Homo sapiens: one gene and its partners. The protein of the gene in region 1 interacts with the protein of each later gene in a pairwise test. Each region holds a gene or a part of one and is shown in the gene's direction. Other genes may lie near its edges.

Region 1 (3,409 bases):
GTCTTTTTTGAGAGAGTGGCTAGGGACATTAGGTAAAGAGAAAGCAAAGATACTTTATTGAGGATTAATGTCATGGTAGTTGGAAGGAAAACTTTTAGAGAATTTTCTTGGGAATACTAACTTTGCATTTATATGAATGTATACAGCAGATCTGTTCAGAGTTTAAATAACCTTTGAACCCTTGTTCTCATTATATATGTGGTATATTTTACAGGGAAATTATATTTTCTTTCACACTTTACTTGTTATTTCTCTAGGAGAGGACTGCTGTTTTTTCTTAAAGTTCATAAAATAGATATATTTGTGTATATGAACCAAACTGAAGGCACTTCTAATGAGTGTTTCTACATTTTTAGGGAAGCAGGAATTGAGGAACAGATTCTCCAGCCATGGATTGTGGTGAATCTCGTGGTGGCTCTTCTGGTTGGATTATCTTGGCTATTTTTGTCTTATAGGCCAGGCATGGATCTTAGTGAAGGTATTAAAGAAAAAAAATAGCATAAGAATATCCTGAAATCTTCTATAATGGTTTTATAAACCTCCTTTTAATAGGTATAGCTTATAATATTCCAATAACAAAGACACATTTAAATTAAAATGATACAAGAAGAGAGAAAATAAAGTGGTGTAACAGAATGCCAAGAGAAGCAGGGAGGAGTGTCTAGGAGGGCTTGAGTCTGGAACTACTTAATGAGGGGCTTCTGTGGCCCTTGTGCATTTTCAGGAGGTATTTCTTCTCTTGGAACCCTTCAAGTAATGTAGAAAAAGTCTTTGCTCTTCACTTCTCTTAGTCTCCTGCTGATGAATTTTGAAATAAATCATGCTTTGTCTACATAGCCTCTCTGTCGGACACATACTCAAGTCAATTATTCTTCCTTCTCTATTTGGTACAAATTCTTAACCGTTCATTGGCTAACAGTGTTTAGTACTCTTTTAACATGCTCAGTGTGCAGTGATTCACTCATCTCTAGTCCCCAGACCCCTTTTGGAACACCTGAAGAAGAATCATCATATTAGCAAACTGCTAACCTTTTATGCTGCTTGAGGAACTGTTTAGTATTTGTATTGTAAATTGTGTTTCCTTGGCCAATGTTCAACAGTTTTACCCTTGAATATCTTTTTTTTTTTATTTTTTATTTTTGGAGATGGAGTCTCGCTGTGTCGCCCAGGTCAGAGTACAGTGGCTCGATCTGGGCTCACTGCAAGCTCCGCCTCCCGGGTTCATGTCATTCTCCTGCCTCAGCCTCCCGAGTAGCTGGAACTACAGGCGCCCGCCACCACGCCCGGCTAATTTTTTGTATTTTTAATAGAGACAGGGTTTCACCATGTTAGCCAGGACAGTCTCAATCTCCTGACCTCGTGATCCGCCCGCCTCGGCCTCCCAAAGTGCTGGGATTAAGGCGTGAGCCACCGCGCCTGGCCAAACATCTTTTATGGATATTTTCTGGGTCTTGGTTATTATTTTATTTTTTATTTGACCAACTATTTACAACCTATCTGCCTCAGAAGCCTTAGCATGCAGAATTTCGCCAACATCTATGCTAAGTAATAGTTTAAATGTAGAAAATGTCAGCTAATAACATTCTACATTGTGGCTGGGATCAAAACTGCATCTGGATTGTGCAGTATTCAGTCTAAATATTTCCAGAATCCTGTTCTTTTAAGGCCATGTTAGTCATACAACATGTGGATTTAAAAAGTAAGTATAAAATGAGATGATAATACCTGGCTTCTTGCGTTGTTTTGATGATTAAATGGGATGACCCATTTAAAATATCCTGGCACACATCTCTTGTTAGTTCCAAGTCCTTCCTCTGTATCTGTCCCCTATGTTTCAGATGATCTGATCACTGTAGAATTAGACATTTTAGCTGTTTAATGATCTTTGATTCTCTAAGTGACTTAAATTTCCAGGTAGGATTGTGTATATTGTCTCTATTACATTTTACTTTTAAGGGGTCTATAATTTAAAATTTAAATATTTTAAAATGTAAAACTTGTACATTTGTTATCAGCTTACCTTTTAAATCATATTTCACTGTCAAGAAATCTTACTTGAGGGCTTTCTATTAGTATATATTATGTCAATTTTTTAAAGGACTATTTATAAATAAGCTATACAACTCTGTTGGAGGTACTGGGAAACAATTTTAAGTATGATCTGTTCATTTTCTTCTCCAGAGTTAATGTTCTCCTCAGAGGTGGAAGAATATCCTGATAAAGAGAAAGAAATCAAAGCCTCTTCATAATACCAGCTCACCTTTGGAGGAATAATGACCCAGTATTTGTCCCATTTTTGTTTTTAAATGTATTTTTATAAGATGTATACATGTGTATTTGTAATAGATTTTTTGATTATATAATACTGAAACATCTCTCAATATTATGAAAAATGTTAAAATTGTGTTTGCTGTTTATGTCTAAACATTAATTTGTCTAGCATTATCATCTTAATGACAAAGGGAATAATGAACTAGAAACCAGCAAGTGAAAGTGTTTATTTCCTATTTTCTCAAAACAGTTGTATTTATAACTATTACCTTAAAAAGCACTGGTTTAGAAAAAGCCATAACTTAAATAGTGTTATAAAATATATATCAGGTTTAAACATAAATTTAGCGAATATGGTAGAAGGGAAAAAAGCCTTCATTTTTGACCTCCCCTTACTGAATAAATTGAAATATGAAGTTTGTCTTTTCTGAAACTGGCTTAGTGATTGAGTATCATGTAATAATTATAATATAATTTAGCTTGAAAGATGCTCTACATTATGACCAATAAAAAGGGAATGTATGTTTTGTTTGAAAAATTATATAACCTAAATTTTTTACCTAGAAGTAACTAAAAAGTTGCTTCTCATTATAATCTGTACTAGTGGTTCTCATATCTGGTTGTACATCAGGATCATAGAGGGAGATTTTAAAAATCTATGTAGCAAAAGAGGCTGAGCAGGGCAAGGCTCAGGGGAATAAAGGAGAGACCTGTGAGCTTGTGGGCTCCCAGTTGACATCTGCAGTACCCTTTCCTCTGTCCCTTTTTTCTGAGTGACAAGAAATAGGAGTAGAAATTCACCATCTCTGTTCTCCAGCTCTTTGTCAGAGAGGTTTCTGGTTTTCCAGGAAATCCCCCTCTTGAGATGGGTCCTGCACTGGGAAAGATCTCTTCAGAACTATATCCAATGGTACCTCAGCTGTTGTATATGAGACCCTAAAGCTCAAGTTGAGGAGAAGACTAGCTATGGGAAAAAATGTTTCAAAGGCTGTTGAGCACATCAATAAAACTATTGAGCCTGCCCTGATTAGCAAGCACCTGAATGTTATAGAACAGAAGAGGATTGACAAATTGATGATAGAGACAGTTGACCCTGACAATAGGTCTAAATTTGGAGTGAACATTATACTGGGAATCT
Region 2 (3,500 bases), on another chromosome or scaffold:
TCAGAGAGGTCAGGTGGTTTACTTAGGGTCACACAGCCAGGCATTTTGTGGAATTTGGCCTGCAACCTAGGGTTCCTGCCCCCAGGTCTGTTACTCCTTCTAGTCCCTTTTGTGGAAGTTTGCAGAGGGTTGATGCTGTGGGTGGGAGAGAACAAGCTTCTTGGTTACCTTTGACCCTCACAAGGGCAGAGTCCCTGGTGCCCTTTTATAGCCTGTGAGCCATTGGCCTTGACTCACAGCAGAGCCCCATTCCTCACTGTCAGCCTTCAGCTTACGGGCCATTAACTGCATCCCTCCTGGGGCTGGACCAGATGGGCCTCCTCACTCCACAATCCCTCACACACACACTTTCCCAGTGTGTGCCATCAGCACTTATTGAACCTGTGGGCCACTTGCTGTGTGACCTTAAACAAGTGCTGTTCTGGTTCCTATACAATGAAGGTCTTGGATTCAGTTACTTCTAGGGGTCCTGCCAGCCTGATGTCCTGTGGACCCACTCTGTCTGTGGATCCCCAGCCCCTTCTCACTTCTTAGCCTCAAGTCCATCGTGTGGCTTCTTAAATCCTAGCATTCCAAGAGATCCTGGGAGTCCCCTGGGCCAGCCTCAAGGCTGTATCAGAATCCCACAACACCCCCTAAGGTGTTCATCCAGCCCAAGCCCACACTCCAGGAATGGGGAGCTCATTTCATCCTAGGCACCCTTCCTATCTCAAGAAGGAAGTCCTTGAGTTAAGCTGAAGTCTGCTTTCCTCCCAGAAGGAAGGAAGTTTTGTTTTGTTTTTGTTGTTGTTTTGAGACAGGGTCTCGCTCTGTCACCCAGGCTGGAGTGCAGCGGCACTATCCCAGCTTACTGCAGCCTCAACCTCCAGGGCTTAAGCGATCCTCCCACCTCAGCCCCCCAAGTAGCTGGGACTGCAGATATGCACCACCATACCCAGCTAATGTTTGTTTTTTTTGTAGAGATGGGGTTTTGCCATGTTGCCCAGGCTGGTCTCCAGCTCCTGGACTCAAGCAGTCCACCTGCCTCAGCCTCCCAAAGTGCTGGGATTACAGGCATGAGCCCCATGCCTGGCCAGGAGGTTCTTGTGATTAAGCTGAGACCTGCTTCCCTCTAGGGAGCCTGACCCTATCCTTGAGTCCTGGACTCCCCCACATATATGCCCCTCTTTCCCTGTGGGTACGCCAAGAGCTTGAACCCCACTATGCTAAATGCTTTAGGTACCTTAGCCTTTTCTTTTCTTTTCTTTTTTTTTTTTTTTTGAGACGGAGTCTCGCTCTGTCGCCCAGGCTGGAGTCCAGTGGCACGATCTCGGCTCACTGCAAACTCCACCTCCTGGGTTCACACCATTCTCCTGCCTCAGCCTCCCGAGGAGCTGGGACTATGGGCACCTACCACCATGCCCGGCTAATTTTTTTGTATTTTTTTTTTAGTAGAGATGGGGTTTTACCGTGTTAGCCAGGAGGGTCTCGATTTCCTGACCTCATGATCTGCCCTCCTCGGCCTCCCAAAGTGCTGGGATTACAGGCGTGAACTACCGCACCTGTCCGCCTTAGCCTATTTAATCCTTACGACAATCCTGGAGATGTGGGTACTGTCATTAGCCCCACTCCACTGAAGCTCCAAGAGGTTTAGTAATTTCCTTACACTATGTAGTAGGGCCTGAGTCCTGCTCCTAGCTCATGTTGTCTGTCTTAGCAGTCCTGTCCCCAATGGAGCTAGTTTGGAAATGGGTCAAGGTGCTTTGAGTTACTGCAATGACTGGCATTCAGTGGGCTGAGCTAAACGATTTCATTACGGCCACCCATGGACACAAAGGCTGAAAAGGGGCCAGGAGAGAACATAGGGGACCTCCCTGATGAGGGCCAATCCTGCTAGGTCTTTACGGATAACTAAGAGTTCACCAAGTACCGAAGCCGAGGAGGACACTCCAGACAGAAGAATCCCCTTGAACAAAGGCTGGGAGGAGGTGGTGGGACTTGCCCAAGCCTTGAAAGGGTGGGCAAGCAGGTGGGGGCCCCTTAGGCACACAGGCCCCTCACCCCGTCTGTCTTTCCTTGTTTCCGCGGCCCAGACGGGGCAGTGGTGTGCATGCTCCAGTTCCCCAGCCCCAGCTGGTACTGGGACACGGTGACCAAGATCTGCGTGTTCCTCTTCGCCTTCGTGGTGCCCATCCTCATCATCACCGTGTGCTATGGCCTCATGCTGCTGCGCCTGCGCAGTGTGCGCCTGCTGTCGGGCTCCAAGGAGAAGGACCGCAGCCTGCGGCGCATCACGCGCATGGTGCTGGTGGTTGTGGGCGCCTTCGTGGTGTGTTGGGCGCCCATCCACATCTTCGTCATCGTCTGGACGCTGGTGGACATCGACCGGCGCGACCCGCTGGTGGTGGCTGCGCTGCACCTGTGCATCGCGCTGGGCTACGCCAATAGCAGCCTCAACCCCGTGCTCTACGCTTTCCTCGACGAGAACTTCAAGCGCTGCTTCCGCCAGCTCTGCCGCAAGCCCTGCGGCCGCCCAGACCCCAGCAGCTTCAGCCGCGCCCGCGAAGCCACGGCCCGCGAGCGTGTCACCGCCTGCACCCCGTCCGATGGTCCCGGCGGTGGCGCTGCCGCCTGACCAGGCCATCCGGCCCCCAGAGCGCCCCTCCCTAGTGACCCGGAGGCCACATGAGTCCCAGTGGGAGGCGCGAGCCATGATGTGGAGTGGGGCAGTAGAAGGTCGGAGGCTTGGGACCGCCAGATGGGGCCTCTGTTTCGGAGACGGGACCGGGCCGCTAGATGGGCATGGGGTGGGCCTCTGGTTTGGGGCGAGGCAGAGGACAGATCAATGGCGCAGTGCCTCTGGTCTGGGTGCCCCGTCCACGGCTCTAGGTGGGGCGGGAAAGCCAGTGACTCCAGGAGAGGAGCGGGACCTGTGGCTCTACAACTGAGTCCTTAAACAGGGCATCTCCAGGAAGGCGGGGCTTCAACCTTGAGACAGCTTCGGTTTCTAACTTGGAGCCGGACTTTCGGAGTTGGGGGTCCGGGCCCAGGACCCAGAAAGGGCAGTGGTGGGGACAGTTGCTTGAAAACTGAGCTGCAAGACTGGGCCTCTGTGTAGTAGGGAGGAGCCTCCTGTGAGGGGAGACCCAGAGACAGGACAGCTGGGTGTGGCTACAGCTGAAGATTTGGTCACCAGATAGGGCGCCTGTGCAAAGGGCCTGTGGCCTCATCTTTGGATACGGGATACAGTCCCAGCCCTGAGTTCTAGCAAGGGGCAAGGCTCGCTGAGGTCCAGGTCCGACTTGACACCTTTATAAATAGAATATAAAAGACTGAGGGGCCAGGCGTGGTGGCTCAAGCCTGTAATCCCAGCACTTTGGGAGGCCGAGGCAGGTGGATGGACATGAGCCCAGGAGTTCGAGACTAGTCTGGGCAACATGGGAGACCCTGTCGCTACAAAAAATACAAAATTAGCCAGGCATGGTGGTGTGTACCTGCAGGCCTAGCTCCTTGGAAGGTGA
Region 3 (2,738 bases), on another chromosome or scaffold:
GCTTTGGAGTTAGAATGTGGCTTCTCGCCCTGCTGTCACTCCTCATCTGGCCCTCAGCTTCCCCAAGTAGAGTAAGTCCCTCTTGCTCCAGGTCTGACCAGTGGTTCTCTGTGTACATGAGGTGTGTGAGGTTCCTGAAGATGGAACTTGAGCTACTCAGAGGAGCTCATTGGGCATCCACAGCTGCAAAGGGTTAGAAGTCAAACCTTTTCATTTCTTTCCTTTGGTTTTACTTCTTAGATGAATCTTTTTTTCTCACTATAATGTGAAAAGATAGTTGGTTTCTTTTTCTGCGAAATAGACAAAGAGGTATATTTTGGTGCAGATCATTCCTCAGCCTTGCAAAATTACCCTGAAGCCCTTACTAAGCGCACAGGGATACATGTCCCCTTCACCCCACTCTTAGTAGTATTGGGGCAATACTTTAGGTCACACACTTTTAATGCATGTTTAATTCCTGGAGTCCATTAAAAATAAGAGGGCCAGGGAGTTACCCAATCAAGAATTCATTGAGTTCTGGTGCCCAGAGGGCTTATGTTCCCACGCTGGCCTTTGCAGTAGTGATGATGATCTTTCCCCCAGCACTACCGTATTATCCAGCATCATCTGGGAGCCCCTGGACACAGCCATCATGCAAGCACATGGCAGCTGGTGGCATAAAGAATCCACTGCACCCCCACCTCCACCCCCAGACCTGCCCTGCAATTGCACAAAAAGGAAAACAACCATAATCATCATCCTGATGAGAATGATAATAGGCACTTAGAGCTTTCACATCTTTTATCCAAGGGATACAATATGCTCTCCCAAAAAATTTTTATTCCAGTGTTGTGGGAAGTAGAAGGGGCACAGTAGTGGAGTTGGCGAGATGCTGTAGTGACAGGAATGAGGGAGAAGCCAAGGGGTCTGGCCTCTGGAAGGTCCCTCTCCTGAGGGGCAGCCTGAGTCCTCTGTGGGCTTCTACTAACACCTTCCTCTCTTTTTTTTTTTTTTTTTTTTTTTTTGCATTCAGCATGATCTACACTTTAGTGAGCTCTTAACGCAAAGACCATGCACATCATCAGAGACTGAGATGGGAGAGGCCTGAGACGGAGAGGTGCATTTCTGCTGGTGACTGGAGGAGGGACCAGAATGAGGATACGTGAGAAATAGACCCGGCAGGCAGTCAGACTGAATGGGAGCTGGAATCACGCAGCAGCTGGGAGCCGAGTTAACCCTGCGTGTCTGTGTCACCCTGTTTGTCAATCTTTGGCATTCGAATTCCACACACGGGGTCCTAGAGCCCTTCTGAGCATCAGTGGTGTGGGGGAGTAGGTGACGAAACACTAGACCTCTCCTGAGAGAGAATTGCTGCTTCCTGAATCCACTTCATTGAACAGCACCTTGCAAGTTCAAATGAGTTCCTGGGAGCGGAGGCTGGAAGGCCACAAGGTGCTTGCTAAGGAACAGAATGACCCAGAGTCAAGGCCAAGTCTGCAGGGACCTGTTGAAAGCCTCGAGAATGTCTTGGCTGCCCAAGACTCTTGTTGCCTTTCTTCCAAGCCATGGCCATGCCCTTTTTCTCAAATGGGAGGGGCTGGAGGGTGTGTGGGATTTGTCTTCAGCTGCAACCAGCCTTGAGCCTGCTGGGCTATTTTCAGCTGAGGAGGGGTGAATATAGGAAAAATGCATTTTTGAAACGTTTGCAACATGATCAAGGTGTTAGTTCTCCACCACACAAGTTGTATTCTTCTTTTGCCACCTCAAACCATCACAGAGTCTTTAAATGCAAATCAATTGGTCAATGCTAGTCAAAGCTATGTTCTTACAAAAACCCCAGACAGCTCAGAGCTCAGAAAATCCTGTGGAGTGGCTGCTCTGTACCGTGGGCATCCGGCAGCCAGGAAGTGAGACAACATAATTATAACTTTGTTTTATGATGCTGCATCATTTGTACTGTTTAGGTCGACGTGAGGACATCATCTTATTTAGAATTTTCCGTTTGGCATTCTCTTTTGGGTGGGAGTTATGCTGGGGGTTGTAAATAATGACAAGGCTGAGATTTTTATGATGTTTAAATTGGGCACAATGATTTTGACCTTATTCCCCAAACTTCTTTTCTTTTCTACTGTTTAACATACACAGGCTATTTATACACGTCCCCAGCTCCCATCTGAAACCTGTGACTCAGGTTTATGAATGGTGTTTGTGTAGCAACACATTGTGTGCTATGTTTATTAAAATGCAGCGACAACTTGAGTGTCTCACTTAACTGGCTCTCTCATTTCAACCATTACAGCTGAATTTGTCTACATATGGTTGGAAAACTGATAGGAAGAAAAGGCAAATTTTCAAAAAGGCATCATGCTGCTAAAAATTCTGTGGAAAACAAAATGCAGACTTTTACTCTGAGGTTTATGGTATAAAACTGGAGAATTTGAGGTGATGATTTTGGGAGAAGGCTTCCTCTTGGCCAATGCCCTTTTTACCGACCAGGTAACTGTTGTTAGGGATAGAGTTACCTTTCGGCTGCTTGGGCCTGGCTTTGGCTTCATTCCTGAGAAGACTAGTGACCCTCATCCAGAGAGGCAAGCCTTGGATGGCAGGCTGCAGACGCTAATCTAATCGCACAGCCGTCCTGCAAATGCAACTGGATGTAGAAGGTGAATGGTCTGTGTTACTTCTCACCATGGAGCTGTTTTGTTTCTATACTCTGTCTTCTTTCAGAAAGATTTGTAGTGGCTCATAATAGGAGACAC
Region 4 (3,500 bases), on another chromosome or scaffold:
TTCAGCACACTGGCAACGAGCACATCAAACAGATTGCCACTTGTCCTGTCGGCGTCTTTGAGACACACTTGCCCATCTAGGAAAGCACAGTGCAGGTATCTGTGTTCTGCCACCGTGTGCCAGCCCGGACCAGCTCACAGACAGCCCTGCCTGTCTTACTTGGGCTGCTCGGCTTCACTGTCTCAGGGCCCCTGAACCTCCCAGAGCCCTCCGTGATTGTTGGAATGTGAGTATAGCTGTGTGCTCTTGAGTTCCTGTTTTTATAATCACGTGAAGATGTACTTGATCTGCTTCTGAGCATGATATGAGGCAACCTGGGGTGTGCAGAGGGCCAGATGCACGGGGCTAAAAGTTCAGGTTTAGCGCGAAGTTATTTGTTGTGGCCTGCCCCTCCCCTGGCTTGCGCGGCCATCTGCTCCAGCGTTTTATAGGCAGCCAGTTCCCTGGGCTGACTTTCATGGCTTTCCTTGCCATGCTTTATTCCCCAGGACCTGTCCTCTTCTTTGTGAACTCAGGTGTGCCTGGTCCCAGGTGGCCCTTACACGTTCATCCAGTGAGCAGATGGAGCACAGGCCCCGGGGGCAGGTTGGGTCATGGTCCCGGGGTGACAGCTTCCCTTTCTGATCTGATCCTTCCCTTTTAGACTCTCAGGCTTTGGGAGTATTTAATCTCTCTTGAAAGACTCCATGCTTGCTTTTGTGTGTGGCGGGAGTTTTTGTTTCCTTCTGGCTGGGATGAGATGAGCAGATACGGGATCTGCACCCAAGTGTGTGGGGGTTTAGCCACTGGTTGTGGGATTCTGCTCAGCTCTTTAACAAAGGCAAAGCCACATGTTCTGGCCGCAGAAGTTGGATTCGTAGGTAAGGATGGGGTTCATCCTCTTCAGTATTGATGTGCCTTCAAGTTTTCAAGAATTTCTGTTTTCCTTGGTTCACTCAAGCAGCCTGGATTCCAAGTGCATTAATTTGTGTCTCAGTGGTTCAGTCCTTTAGGTCATGTTCCAGGGAAGGCTCCCCTTTCTGAAGAGGGGAGGGCTGCGCCTGGGTCCACGGAGGTGGGGAGGTGGCTCCTCTGCCCCGGCTTGTCGGTGTGCACCTGTTCTTCAATGAGCGAGGTGCGGGGGGTGGAGTTGGGCAGCACTCCATGACCGAGCACACCCGGGAACCTCCTGACTGCCACGGTGTTCCGCCCTGGTGCCAGCAGCCACTTTATGGGCACAGTTCTCAGGAAAAGCTGACAGCCATGTAGTAGTCATAACAGTTCTTCAGAGCAGGGCTGTCCAGTAGGAGTTTCTGGCATGACAGACTCCTGGCGTGTCCCTGCAGTCCATTAGGGCAGCCATTAGCCACGTGTGGCTCTGAGGAACTGAGGTTTCATTTATTTATTTATTTTATGAGACAGGTCTGGCTCTGTCACCCAGGCTGGAGTGCAGTGGTATGATCTCGGATCTCTGCAACCTCCGTCTCCCTGGCTCAAACCATTCTCCCACCCCAGCCTCCCGAGTAGCTGGGACCACAGGCATGTACCACCACGCCCAGCTCATTTTTGTATTTTTTGTAGAGGCAGAGTTTTCACCATGTTGTCTAGGCTGGTCTTAAAATTTGTGGGCTCAAGGAATCCACCCGCCCTGGCCTCCCAAAGTGCTGGGATTACAGGCGTGAGCCACTGTGCCCGGCCAGGAACTGAATTTTTTAAGATGTCTAATTTTAATTAATTTAAATTTCAACAGCCACATGTGTCTTAGGCAGAGGGGCAGTGCTTGGCGACTGTTCCCATCTTCACTGCAGTCCTCTGGGAGAGCCAGGGCCTCTGGCCCCGTTTGACAACATGGGAAACTGGCTCAGAGGGGCCGGGTGTTTTGCCCTAGGACACAAAGCCAGTAGGCAGCCGAGAGGGAACTTGAATCCACCCTCTCGACTCCCACACTTGGTGCGCCGTGTTCCTGCTCCCCAGATAGAAGGGCTGCTGAGTTACCAGTGCGCAGAATAGGAAAGTGTCCTCTGAAGCAGACGAAAGGGCTGGGTGTCCTGTGAAAGTTCCTTGGCCTGTGGGAGCCGTCCTCAGGCCATGGGGCCGCATGCCCGTGCCTTTGAGTCTGGGGCACGGGCTTTCACTGCTTCAGTCCTCTGCTTTCTGTGGGTCCCAAAGAAGCAGGGCTTAATTAGGCAGAAGCGGGTGGAGGTCCAGCCCAGCACCTCCTGTATCATAGGTGATCAAGTGACCCTTTCACTAAGTGAAAAGCAGCCTGACGGATGGGTTGACTTTTCTGGTACCAGTTCTCTTAATAACCATAATTGTTTTTCTCCTCCTGTGACTCCTGTGGCTCATGTCTGTAATCATTACAAATGTCCCTCCAACCTGTGTCTTTTGGGAACCTGTTACATTCAGGCCCAGTGCTGGGGAAACTACGATGAAAATGCAGCCTCTGCCCTCATGGAGCTTCAGGCCTGCCTGTGAGCCCGGGCCCCACTCCAAGAAGGGGCCTAATGTGGATGCTTCCACTCAGATTTGCCTCTGCTGGGTCTCTCAGAACTGGGAAGGTGATTGGTGGCTGGCCTGGCAGCTTAGCCAGTGTTTGCTCAAGGGAAACGGAGCTGGAACTGCCCTCCTCTTTTTGGGCAGGACTACAGGTACACACCAGCATGACACCTCAGCCATGAGAAGCTGCCCGCGTCCAGACTTCTGCCTTTCATGGACACCGAGAAGGTTCTGGAGCAGGAAGTGAGCCACCTCCCGCTCTTCTTGGCAGTGGAAGGAGGCCCTCCCACGGGTATCTGGTCCCTTTACCTCAAGGGATATAGGGTTGAACAGAATTTTTCTTTTTAAGAATAAGTTTATAATTATTTTTCCTGTTATAAAAGAAACACTTTGGCCGGGCGCAGTGGCTCATGCCTGTAATCCCAACACTTTGGGAGGCCGAGGTGGGCGGATCACGAGGTCAGGAGATTGAGACCATCCTCGCTAACACAGTGAAACCCCGTCTCTACTAAAAATACAAAAAATTAGCCGGGCGTGGTGGCGATTGCCTGTAGTCCCAGCTACTCTGGAGGCTGAGGCAGGAGAATGGCGTGAACCCAGGAGGCGGAGCTTGCAGTGAGCCAAGATCACGCCACTGCACTTGAGCCTGGGCGACAGAGCGAGACTCCGTCTCAAAAAAAAAAAAAAGAAACACTTTTTTTTAAAAAATATAGAAAAGCATGAAGAAATTGACAAGTCACCTATTAGGCCACCATCCAAAGAAAACCACTGTTGATCTATTTTCTTGTTTCTTTTGAGACAATGTCTCGCTCTTGTCCCCCTGGCTGGAGTGCAGTGGTGTGATCTTGGCTCACTGCAACCTCTACCTCCTAGGTTCAAGCGATTCTCCTGCCTCAGCCTCCTGAGTAGCTGGGATTACAGGCGCCTGTCACCACACCTGGCTAATTTTTGTATTTTTAGTAGAGACGGGGTTTCACCATGTTGGCCAGGCTGGTCTGAAACTCCTGACCTTAGGTAATCCG
Region 5 (3,500 bases), on another chromosome or scaffold:
CCTAGTTAGATTCATCCATCCGTGCTTTGAGGCTCCCTTCCCTCATGCAAGCTTTGTGTATTGCCCTAGGCCACGCTGATCCTTTTCTTTTTTTTTTTCAGTATTTATTGATCATTCTTGGGTGTTTCTCAGAGAGGGGGATGTGGCAGGGTCATAGGATAATAGTGGAGAGAAGGTCAGCAGATAAACACGTGAACAAAGGTCTCTGGTTTTCCTAGGCAGAGGACCCTGCAGCCTTCCTCAGTGTTTATGTCCCTGGGTACTTGAGATTAGGGAGTGGTGATGACTCTTAACGAGCATGCTGCCTTCAAGCATCTGTTTAACAAAGCACATCTTGCACCACCCTTAATCCATTTAACCCTGAGTGGACACAGCACATGTTTCAGAGAGCACGGGGTTGGGGGTAAGGTTATAGACTAACAGCATCCCAAGGCAGAAGAATTTTTCTTAGTACAGAACAAAATGGAGTCTCCTATGTCTACTTCTTTCTACACAGACACAGTAACAATCTGATCTCTCTTTCTTTTCCCCACATTTCCCCCTTTTCTTTTTGACAAAACTGCCATCGTCATCATGGCCCATTCTCAATGGTCGCTGTCTCTTCGGAGCTGTTGGGTACACCTCCCAGACCGGGCGGCCGGGCAGAGGCACTTCTCACTTCCCAGACGGGGCGGCTGGGCAGAGGCGCTCCTCACTTCCCAGACGGGGCGGCCAGGCAGAGGTGCTCCACACCTCCCAGACGGGGCGGCCGGGCAGAGGCGCTCCTCACCTCCCAGACGGGGCGGCCGGGCAGAGGCGCTCCTCACATCCCAGACGATGGGCAGCCGGGCAGAGACGCTCCTCACCTCCCAGACGGGGCGGCCGGGCAGAGGCGCTTCTCACCTCCCAGACAGACGATGGGCAGCCAGGCAGAGGCGCTCCTCACTTCCTAGACGGGGTGGCGGCCAGGCAGAGGTGCTCCTCACTTCCCAGATGGGGCGGCCAGGCAGAAGGGCTCCTAACCTCCCAGACGGGGCGGCTGGGCAGAGGTGCTCCTCACCTCCCAGATGGGGCGGCCGGGCAGAGGGGCTCCTCACCTCCCAGACGGGGCGGCCGGGCAGAAGGGCTCCTCACATCCCAGACGGGGCGGCCGGGCAGAGGGGCTCCTTACTTCCCAGACGGGGTGGCCGGGCAGAGGCGCTCCTCACATCCCAGACGATGGGCAGCCGGGCAGAGGCGCTTCTCACCTCCCAGACAGGGCAGCCGGGCAGAGGGGCTCCTCACTTCCCAGACGGGGCAGCTGGGCAGAGGCGCTCCTCACTTCCCAGACGGGGCGGCCGGGCAGAGGCGCTCCTCACATCCCAGACGATGGGCAGCCAGGCAGAGGCGCTCCTCACTTCCTAGACGGGGCAGCTGGGCAGAGGCGCTCCTCACTTCCCAGACGGGGCGGCCGGGCAGAGGCGCTCCTCACATCCCAGACGATGGGCAGCTGGGCAGAGGCGCTTCTCACCTCCCAGATGGGGTGGCCGGGCAGAGGGGCTCCTCACATCCCAGACGATGGGCGGCCAGGCAGAGACGCTCCTCACTTCCTAGATGGGGTGGCGGCCGGGCAGAGCCTGTAATCTTAGCACTTTTGGAGGCCAAGGCAGGCGGCTGGGAGGTGGAGGTTGTAGCGAGCCGAGATCACGCCACTGCACTCCAGCCTGGGCAACATTGAGCATTGAGTGAGCGAGACTCCGTCTGCAATCCCAGCACCTCGGGAGGCCGAGGCGGGCAGATCACTCGAGGTCAAGAGCTGGAGACCAGCCTGGTCAACACGGCGAAACCCCGTCTCCACCAAAAATACAAAAACCAGTCAGGTGTGGCGGCGTGTGCCTGCGATCCCAGGCACTCGGCAGGCCGAGGCAGGAGAATCACGGGAGCCCGAGGCAGGGAGGTTGCAGGGAGCTGAGATCACGGCAGTACAGTCCAGCCTCAGCAACAGAGGGAGAAGGAAGAAGCGAGGGAGAGGGGGAGGGTTGGGGGAGGGGGGAGGGAGATCCCTTTCTAACCTGATCTCCTGATAAGCCTAGTAATCAAAAACAGAATAGCAAGCTGTTGGCCAGACATGGTGGCTCACAGCTGTAATCCCAGCACTATGGATGGCTGATGTGGGTTGATTATTGAGCCCAGGAATTTGAGGCCAGCCTGGGCAACATAGTGAGACCTCATCTCTACAAAAAATAATAATAATAATAATAATAATAATAAAATAAAATTAGCTGGGCATAGTGGCATGCACCTGTGGTCCCAGTTACTCAGGAGACTGAGGTGGAAGGAATGCTTGAGCCTGGGAGGCCAAGGCTGCAGTGAGCTGTGATCACACCACTGTACTCCAGCCTAGGTGACCCTGTCTCCAAAAAACAAAACAAAAAAACAGAATAGCAAGCTATTAAGAGCACAGGTCTTGAATTAACATAAACCCAGGTTTGAATTGTGTGTGTTATTCAGGACGACTGGGTTGCAAGTGACAGAAAGCCAGTGTGAACTGCACCATCCTTAGCAAAAAGGAATGTGTTGGCTCATATGGCCAGATCATGAACTGGCAACATGAACACTGTCAGCACTTTTTCTCCCCCTTTCCCTGATCCTCTCTGCGAGGCTACTTCATTCTTACCTGGATGTCCCTTGAGGGTGGAACCTTGGCTGTAGGCAGTCCTGGGCTTGCACCCTTAGAACCCAGCACTATAAAGGAAGGAGCTCTTTTCCTCACCTGCAGTTGGAAAAGTCCCACTGGGCCAGTCTAGATCACTGGCCCTTCCTGTGGCTAAGAAAATATCATGTCTTACCAGAAGAAGCAGTGGGTGGGAAATAGGCTGACAAAAGGAATTGTTGCCACAGCTCCTTACTACACGGGTGGCTTTGGCTAAGCACCTAATCCCTCTAAGCCTCAGTATCCTCATCTGTAAAGCAGATGCGTGGATTAGATGAGATAGTGCAGGTAAAGACCTAGCATTGCACATAGTTGGTGTTCAGTGAGGGGGTGGAAGATACCGAGTAGAGGGGACAGGAAGACTTAGCTGACCTAGGGAAGGCCTACCCAACCTGTCTTGCCTGCCACTAGAAAATGAGATTTCTCCCAAGAGCTTGCCTCCCTGTCCTGGGGTACTCTACCAGCCAGTATGGATCATCCTTGGAACTGGCAGGAAGGGATCTCAGAAAATTAGGGAAGCAACAGCAGTATCGACAGAAGACAGTCTTTGCAGTGCCTCTAAGCTAATGTTTGCCACTACAAAAGGAGTAACTGGTCGTTGTGACTGTTTTAATCAGCCAGTAGTTGCTGAGCATGGACCAGGGCCTGAGCTCAGAACTCTGGAGGAATACAGATTTGTGGTCCATGGCGCCTGTTCTTGGCACAAACGAGACGATGAAACCCACACCTCAGTCCTCTTAGGATGTGGCTGGCTGCTTGTCCCTGGAGGTGTGCAAGTAATTGCAGGGACTCTGTAAAGAGGATTTGGACTCTGATAGGGAGGTGGGTG
Region 6 (3,500 bases), about 95 Mb from region 1:
AGGCACCCTGAAATAACATTCACCCACAGACACAGTCACTGAAGCATTGCTTTATTCAGTGCCATCGGTGGACTTCTGGTATGTTCTAGGCAGCCTTCCAGAATGGGGAGAACAGGAAGAATCAGATAGGGTTGTCACTCCTTAGAAGTGCACAGCAGCGCTGCTGTAAAATCTATGAGCTCTGAGCTTTCGGTGGTCTGATAGGCAGACAAAAGGGGCAAACCATGCTTACCTCTCTGGCTTTGCTTTATCAAATTGGAATTTTATCATCTCAGAAGTAGGGGGAACTTGTGGGCAGGGGCACTACTGTCTATCAAAGTGGGAAGGCAGACGTGTCCCTGAGTCACATGGGGAGGATTTTGCAAATATACACCCATCCATCGCCTCTCTCCAAAGACTCACCTGAGATGGTGAGATCCCTTGTTTTGCAGAGGTTGGTGGGAGGTGGGGGGCGGGGAGGGGGACAGATATGACACCTGGATTTAGCTAAAACTCCTGGATGATTCTGGTTTCTAGTGCCCCTTCTACAACCCCACCCCACCACCTACAGAAACACTGCTCAAGATAGAATGTCCCCAGCAGCATCTGAGCAGATGCCCCATGTTGGCTAACTGCCATCTGGCTGTTTTTCAGGTTCATTCTGCCACCCATCTGCATTAAGACACAAGGTGCTGACCGCAGAGACCTGCCATGAAACCACACTTGAAGCAATGGAGACAACGAATGCTTTTCGGAATATTCGCTTGGGGGCTCCTCTTTTTGCTGATTTTCATCTACTTCACCGACAGCAACCCCGCTGAGCCTGTACCCAGCTCCCTCTCCTTCCTGGAGACCAGGAGGCTCCTGCCGGTGCAGGGGAAGCAGCGGGCCATCATGGGCGCCGCACATGAGCCCTCCCCGCCTGGGGGCCTGGACGCACGCCAGGCGCTGCCCCGCGCCCACCCAGCCGGTTCCTTTCATGCGGGGCCTGGAGACCTGCAGAAATGGGCCCAGTCCCAAGATGGGTTTGAACATAAAGAGTTTTTTTCATCCCAGGTGGGGAGAAAATCTCAAAGTGCTTTCTACCCGGAGGATGACGACTACTTTTTTGCTGCTGGTCAGCCAGGGTGGCACAGCCACACTCAGGGGACATTGGGATTCCCTTCCCCCGGGGAGCCAGGCCCACGGGAGGGGGCTTTTCCGGCTGCACAGGTCCAGAGGAGGCGGGTGAAGAAGAGGCACCGGAGGCAGAGAAGGAGCCACGTGTTGGAGGAGGGCGACGACGGCGACAGGCTGTACTCCTCCATGTCCAGGGCCTTCCTGTACCGGCTCTGGAAGGGGAACGTCTCTTCCAAAATGCTGAACCCGCGCCTGCAGAAGGCGATGAAGGATTACCTGACCGCCAACAAGCACGGGGTGCGCTTCCGCGGGAAGCGGGAGGCCGGGCTGAGCAGGGCACAGCTGCTGTGCCAGCTGCGGAGCCGCGCGCGCGTGCGGACGCTGGACGGCACCGAGGCGCCCTTTTCTGCGCTGGGCTGGCGGCGCCTGGTGCCCGCCGTGCCCCTGAGCCAGCTGCACCCCCGCGGCCTGCGCAGCTGCGCTGTCGTCATGTCTGCAGGCGCAATCCTCAACTCTTCCTTGGGCGAGGAAATAGGTAGGTCTCAGCGGGGGGACCAGGTCGCCCTGTCTTGAGCCAGTGTGTCCCTGGGGGCCGGTTCTTTCTGAGCGCGCCTCTGGATCTCTGACGGGGCAAGCTGGGGTCTCCGCACCAGGTGTTCCTAATATTAGCTGGAGATTCTTCAGGTGCTTTCCCATTGCTGGCACAGAATGAGTCTGCCTGGGGTCACAGCAGAAGTACTCTTCGGGAGACTCTTAGAGCAGGGATTTGGGGAATGCTAGGGAGCAGGAAGGGTCCTCCCCATAGCTGATGCCAGTAGGCAGTGGAAGGAAAGCGCCGCCCTTTGCCCCCGGCGTCCTTCTCACTGTTCAGACTTCGTATCCCATAGAAACCGCAGTCTGCATGGATATGCCCCCAGGCTGTGGCCCCTGAAAGCCCGGTGAACCCATCCTGCAGTGGGAATATGGGAAGGGAACAAGAGGAGGAGGCAAGAAAGCAGAAGCTGCCCAATCAGGGCGTCAGCTCCAAAGAGCAGGGTGCATGAAGATAATATTGGTTACTGTGAGCTCTGAGAAGAGCCCAGCTGCTGTTGGGAACATCTTTCCCATGGGAGAATAAGTTCCGGCCTCCCAACTGTTGGCGCAAATCCAACCTTTGGGGCACTGCCAGTGCACCTACCAGGGACCTTCTCCAAGATGGTAAATAACATGCAACACCTGGGCTTCCTCCCTCCCTGCCAGGCTCTGCCTTCACATCCCTGTCAAGAGCCCTGGAGCACATGTTTCCCAGCTCCTGTATCAGTCAGGGTTCTCCAGAGACTCACACCAGGAGGATATGTGTCTATACAGAGACAGATTTATTTTAAGGACTTGACTCTCATGATCGTGAAGGCTGGCAAGTCTGAAATAGGTAGTGCAGCCCAGCAGATGGGAAACTCAGGCAGAGTTTCTGTGTTGCTGTCTTGAGGCAGAATTGTTTCTTTTTTAGGAAACTTCAGTCTTTGTTCTTAAAGCATTCACCTGGCTTGAGGAAGCGCACCTGCATTTTGAGAGTCGTCTGCTTTTCTCAAAGTCTAGTGATTTAACTGTTAATCACATCTTAAAAACACCTTCCCAGCAACATCTGGACTAGTGTTTGACCAACCAGCTGGGCACTGTGGCCTAGCCAAGATGGCACACAACATTAGCCATCACTATTTCTTCCTAGTTTTCAAGTAAAATACCAATTCTAATCTTTTTTGATTGATGGGGCCATGGCAGGGTTCAAATACGTTTCCCTCCTGCAGAGTGGTGTAGGTTCTGCACCAGATGGGCCTGCATTGGCTCTCCTCAGAATTCCCCTTCCTCGCTGGATCACATTCATTTCCCCACCTGCCCCAGACTCTCACCCTGTCTTGCCAGAGATACCCAGGCTCTTGTGTTGCCATAGCTGGGCTCTCCCTCAGCAGTTTCAGATCCCTTTGCTCCCGGAACCCCCCTTCTTCCCAGGCTAATTCCACTGCTAGACCAGTCAGCAAGCAGCTTGGCCCTTTAGGCTCATTCATTTGACAAATATGTGTTTAGCCCCTAATATGTGCTTGATTCTGTACGAGGAGCAGTAAAACAAATGTGAGTCAAATACAGCGTCAGCCTCAAGTCCAGATATAAAACAATCATGTCCTGTACACTCTCACAGTAGGCGTTGTTAGGGCATAACTGGTCTGGAAGTGACATTCCGGGAGTGTTGCTCCCTCTTTGCAAATAAGTAATCTTTGTTGTCTTCATTTTAAGCGGATCCATTAGTTGTTCTGTGTCCTTGAAGAGTGGCCTATGTTCCAGAGTTCTCTCGGAATAGGGTGAAGCCACTGTAGGCAGGCTCAGAAGCCCAGATCTCAGCTCAGCAGAAGTCCTTGGGCATGAGGCTG
Region 7 (3,500 bases), on another chromosome or scaffold:
TTGGACTTACAGTTTCTCATGGCTGGGAAGGCCTCACAATTGTGGCAGAAGGCAAGGAGGAGCAAGTCACATCTTACATGAATGGCAGCAGGCAAAGAGAGAGGGCTTGTGCAGGGAAACTCCCATTTTTAAAACCATCAGATCTCATAGGACTTATTCACTATCACAAGAACAGCATGGGAAGGACCCGCTCCCATGATTCAATTATCTCCCACTGGGTCCCGCCCACAACACATGGGAATTATGGAAGCTACAAGATGAGATTTGGGTGGGGACACAGAGCCAAACCATATCAAAAGATCAGACAGATAGATAGATAGATAGATAGATAGATAGATAGATAGATAGATGTATATATATAGATATATACACACATATATATGTATGTGTGTGTTTGTGTGTGTGTGTAAAAATCACCAAATATTAAGTGATGTTGGAGAGAGAATCAGAGAGTCAAAATTTCAATTCATTCGAAAAGAGGAATGGCCAAGGGGTCAATAGATTACTTAAACCATGAAGGATAGTGAGTTATAGAAACTGACATGTGATTCAAAGGTGGAGGAGAAAGAATGGTTGGATAGCAATAATGAGCAAGGAAACCACTTATCCCACACTTCGAACAGATGGAATGAGGGCTGTAGGATACAATATGGCTGCCCATTGAGACAGCAATTAATCACTAGAAGAAACAATGATCTCTAGGAGGTCTCCCACTTTTATACATACACTAATTCATAAGTGTCAATGGATTGCCTTGAAAAAATAGGAGAAAAATATTGAATTTTTGCACAAAATCCAGATAAATGATACATGGTTCATAAAAGATGAATGGCTCATAAATAATGCACTGGTTCATAGGTGATAAATGATAAATGATGCACTGGGTCACAAGTGTCAAAGCACTACCTTAAAAAAGAGGAGAAAAACTGTGGATTTTCCAACAAAATCCAAATAAATGATGCATTTTCCTTAGTGTTTGACCACTCATATTATAAAAATAGTATATTAAACTCCTAGGATAACTTATCTAAAATTTCAACTAAATGTAATTTAATACTAAACTTCTCACTTAAGCCTAAACTTTGAAAGGCATTTTGTAAAACACATAGTAATCGAAAGATAATCTCATTAGAGAGCACTCTAATTCAAAATTCACAAGATATTTTCACTTTAAATTCTGAGCTAGTTCTTACGTTCACTGTGTACCTCCTTAGAAATCTCAGCTTTTGTTGTGGAATGAAGTGCTGAACAAATAGATTTAAAATTATCCATGGGAAGTTTGTAAGCTTCAGGTTTGGGCTTCCTACATATAGTGTATAGCATGACAAAAATAGCCTTTGACTTGGATCTTTAGTGTCTTATCAATAAAACAAATAAGGAATACTTTGAGGAAATTGTGCAACCCATCTTCAAACAATATGGCATAGTTTTATACTTCTTGGAAGTAGACAGACTTCCTGACATGAAATAATGGAACCTCTGTTTTAAAAAACAAAGGCAAAGGCATGAATTTCTGCCATTACCTTAATAATGACTACAATCTCATAAAAGAGACTGCATATTTTGTACCATCACAATATGGAATAGATTCTTGAACCACTTTTTCCATATTTGGATATGTACATAGTAATCATAAGTAGTGTCATCATCTCATTAGGAAGGATAACATTAAAAGCAATAATCAAATGAGTTATATATGATGTATCTCATACACATAAAAGCAAACTTGGTTCCCGGTCAGGACTGCTTAGGCTGTCTGGCATATTATCACAGTGTGAATCTGCCCACTGTCCCCTATGTGTCTCTGTTATGAGTGACTCTACTATTACCTTTCAATGTATTACTACATGATGTAAATTTGTCCTGACCCATCTACTAAAACTTCTGTATATTTTGTTACTATTAGCATTCTTAAAATAATTGACTTACAAGAGAGTTATTAAAAGTACATTCTAAATTGGCAAGCATTATCAATGAGTATTTATAAATATGTTTTTATATCCAGTTTATCATTGCAGGAGTCTTCCTAATAAGAGTAACAAAGTATCCGACTCGATCTGGAGTAAGTTGAAATGTTTGAGGTATCTCTAGAAATCACTTATCACAAAGCTAAATATTAAGTTTTAATGAAAATATAACGTCTAAACAATGAAGGAATCTACCCTACCTGTAAAGTAAATGAAAGAATTAAGAATGAATCTAGAAGAACATAATTTAATATAGACAAATATACTGTATTGGTTAAAATCATGATTACTTTATGTATAGGTTTCTAAATGTATATATAGTTTTTGTTTTGTTTGATGTTCTGCCTTTTAACATTGTGTAAACTTTATAATTAAAAAATTTTAATAGGACCTAATGCCTTTAGATATAGACATTATACTACTGTAAAACTTCATTTTCTGAACTATCCAGTTTGGGAACAAGATTGTGTCCTGTAACAAAGTACAGAATTGGTCCAGATTAAAGATCCATGCATGGTATAGGTGGATAGAATTGGGAAGAACACTTTAGAATCTTAGAGCTAAAACGTACCTTAGAAATTAGTCTGCCCTCATAATTTTACAGATAAAAAAATGATGTCTGAAGATACTGATAGATTTCCTTAGATAATGAAAACCCAGGATTAAAATTTTATCAACTGACTCCTATTTCTACAAGCAGTCATTTTCCACTTTTTTTTTTTTCTTACAGTGGAACCACTTTTGTCCAAATCATATCTTATATGCTTTCTTCCAAATGACCTATAACATTGAAAAACACAATACTTTTTTTTTTTTTTTTTTGAGATGGAGTCTCTCTCTCTCACCCAGGCTGGAGTGCAGTGGCACAATCTCGGCTCACTGCAAGCTCTGCCTCCTGGGTTTACACCATTCTGCCTCAGCCTCCCAAGTAGCTGGGCCTACAGGTGCCCGCCACCAAGCCCGGCTAATTTTTTTGTATTTTTACTAGAGATGGGGTTTCACCGTGTTAGCCAGGATGGTCTCGATCTCCTGACCTCGTGATCCACCCGTCTCGGCCTCCCAAAGTGCTGGGATTACAGGCGTGAGCCACTGCGCCCGGCCCCAAAAAATACAATATGTTTTAGCCTAAATGGAAGATTAATGATTAATGGACTGATGGTGTTAATGTTTCCTCCAGATTAACTGGGCTTCATATAAATCAGAAAAATATTTTCTTAATATTTAATACTTCTAAGACTTCAGAAACTAGATCAAAGTTTTAACTAGATGAGTTTTTTCAGCAATGCAAACTATTACACCAAAATGTTTATTCTGAATATAATAAATTTGCCCTCTGTCTCCTTTTCAGATTATAAGTACTTTAATCATAAACATCATCTGCATAATTACTACAATTACTGCAGTAACTCTAACAATAATAGAGTTGTCTCATTTTAATTCTGTGTCATACAGGAATTATGGACAAGCAGTAAGTGACCAATTCTATGGGAACATATTAATTTTAAAATTATTCTTTTTAATAATTTTGAAATC

The links.
Region 2: the proteins of TMEM237 (region 1) and OPRD1 interact in binary tests that used the Homo sapiens proteins (3 or more experiments, as listed by UniProt).
Region 3: the proteins of TMEM237 (region 1) and CNIH3 interact in binary tests that used the Homo sapiens proteins (3 or more experiments, as listed by UniProt).
Region 4: the proteins of TMEM237 (region 1) and TMEM11 interact in binary tests that used the Homo sapiens proteins (3 or more experiments, as listed by UniProt).
Region 5: the proteins of TMEM237 (region 1) and CLN6 interact in binary tests that used the Homo sapiens proteins (3 or more experiments, as listed by UniProt).
Region 6: the proteins of TMEM237 (region 1) and ST6GAL2 interact in binary tests that used the Homo sapiens proteins (3 or more experiments, as listed by UniProt).
Region 7: the proteins of TMEM237 (region 1) and MS4A13 interact in binary tests that used the Homo sapiens proteins (3 or more experiments, as listed by UniProt).

What each region holds. Positions count from the first base shown.
Region 1 is NC_000002.12:201,623,095-201,626,503, reverse strand, and holds part of TMEM237 (transmembrane protein 237), read left to right. Parts: intron 1-356; coding exon 357-478; intron 479-2,181; coding exon 2,182-2,249; 3' UTR 2,250-3,409. UniProt on the Homo sapiens protein: Component of the transition zone in primary cilia. Required for ciliogenesis.
Region 2 is NC_000001.11:28,860,670-28,864,169, forward strand, and holds part of OPRD1 (delta-type opioid receptor), read left to right. Parts: intron 1-2,072; coding exon 2,073-2,614; 3' UTR 2,615-3,500. UniProt on the Homo sapiens protein: G-protein coupled receptor that functions as a receptor for endogenous enkephalins and for a subset of other opioids.
Region 3 is NC_000001.11:224,738,317-224,741,054, forward strand, and holds the end of CNIH3 (protein cornichon homolog 3), read left to right. Parts: intron 1-1,012; coding exon 1,013-1,040; 3' UTR 1,041-2,238; downstream 2,239-2,738. UniProt on the Homo sapiens protein: Regulates the trafficking and gating properties of AMPA-selective glutamate receptors (AMPARs).
Region 4 is NC_000017.11:21,207,662-21,211,161, reverse strand, and holds part of TMEM11 (transmembrane protein 11, mitochondrial), read left to right. Parts: exon of another isoform or gene 1-226; intron 227-3,500. UniProt on the Homo sapiens protein: Plays a role in mitochondrial morphogenesis.
Region 5 is NC_000015.10:68,219,729-68,223,228, reverse strand, and holds part of CLN6 (ceroid-lipofuscinosis neuronal protein 6), read left to right. Parts: intron 1-3,500.
Region 6 is NC_000002.12:106,841,168-106,844,667, reverse strand, and holds part of ST6GAL2 (beta-galactoside alpha-2,6-sialyltransferase 2), read left to right. Parts: exon of another isoform or gene 1-410; intron 411-633; 5' UTR 634-690; coding exon 691-1,633; intron 1,634-3,500. UniProt on the Homo sapiens protein: Transfers sialic acid from the donor of substrate CMP-sialic acid to galactose containing acceptor substrates.
Region 7 is NC_000011.10:60,521,892-60,525,391, forward strand, and holds part of MS4A13 (membrane-spanning 4-domains subfamily A member 13), read left to right. Parts: intron 1-2,005; coding exon 2,006-2,062; intron 2,063-3,315; coding exon 3,316-3,435; intron 3,436-3,500. UniProt on the Homo sapiens protein: May be involved in signal transduction as a component of a multimeric receptor complex.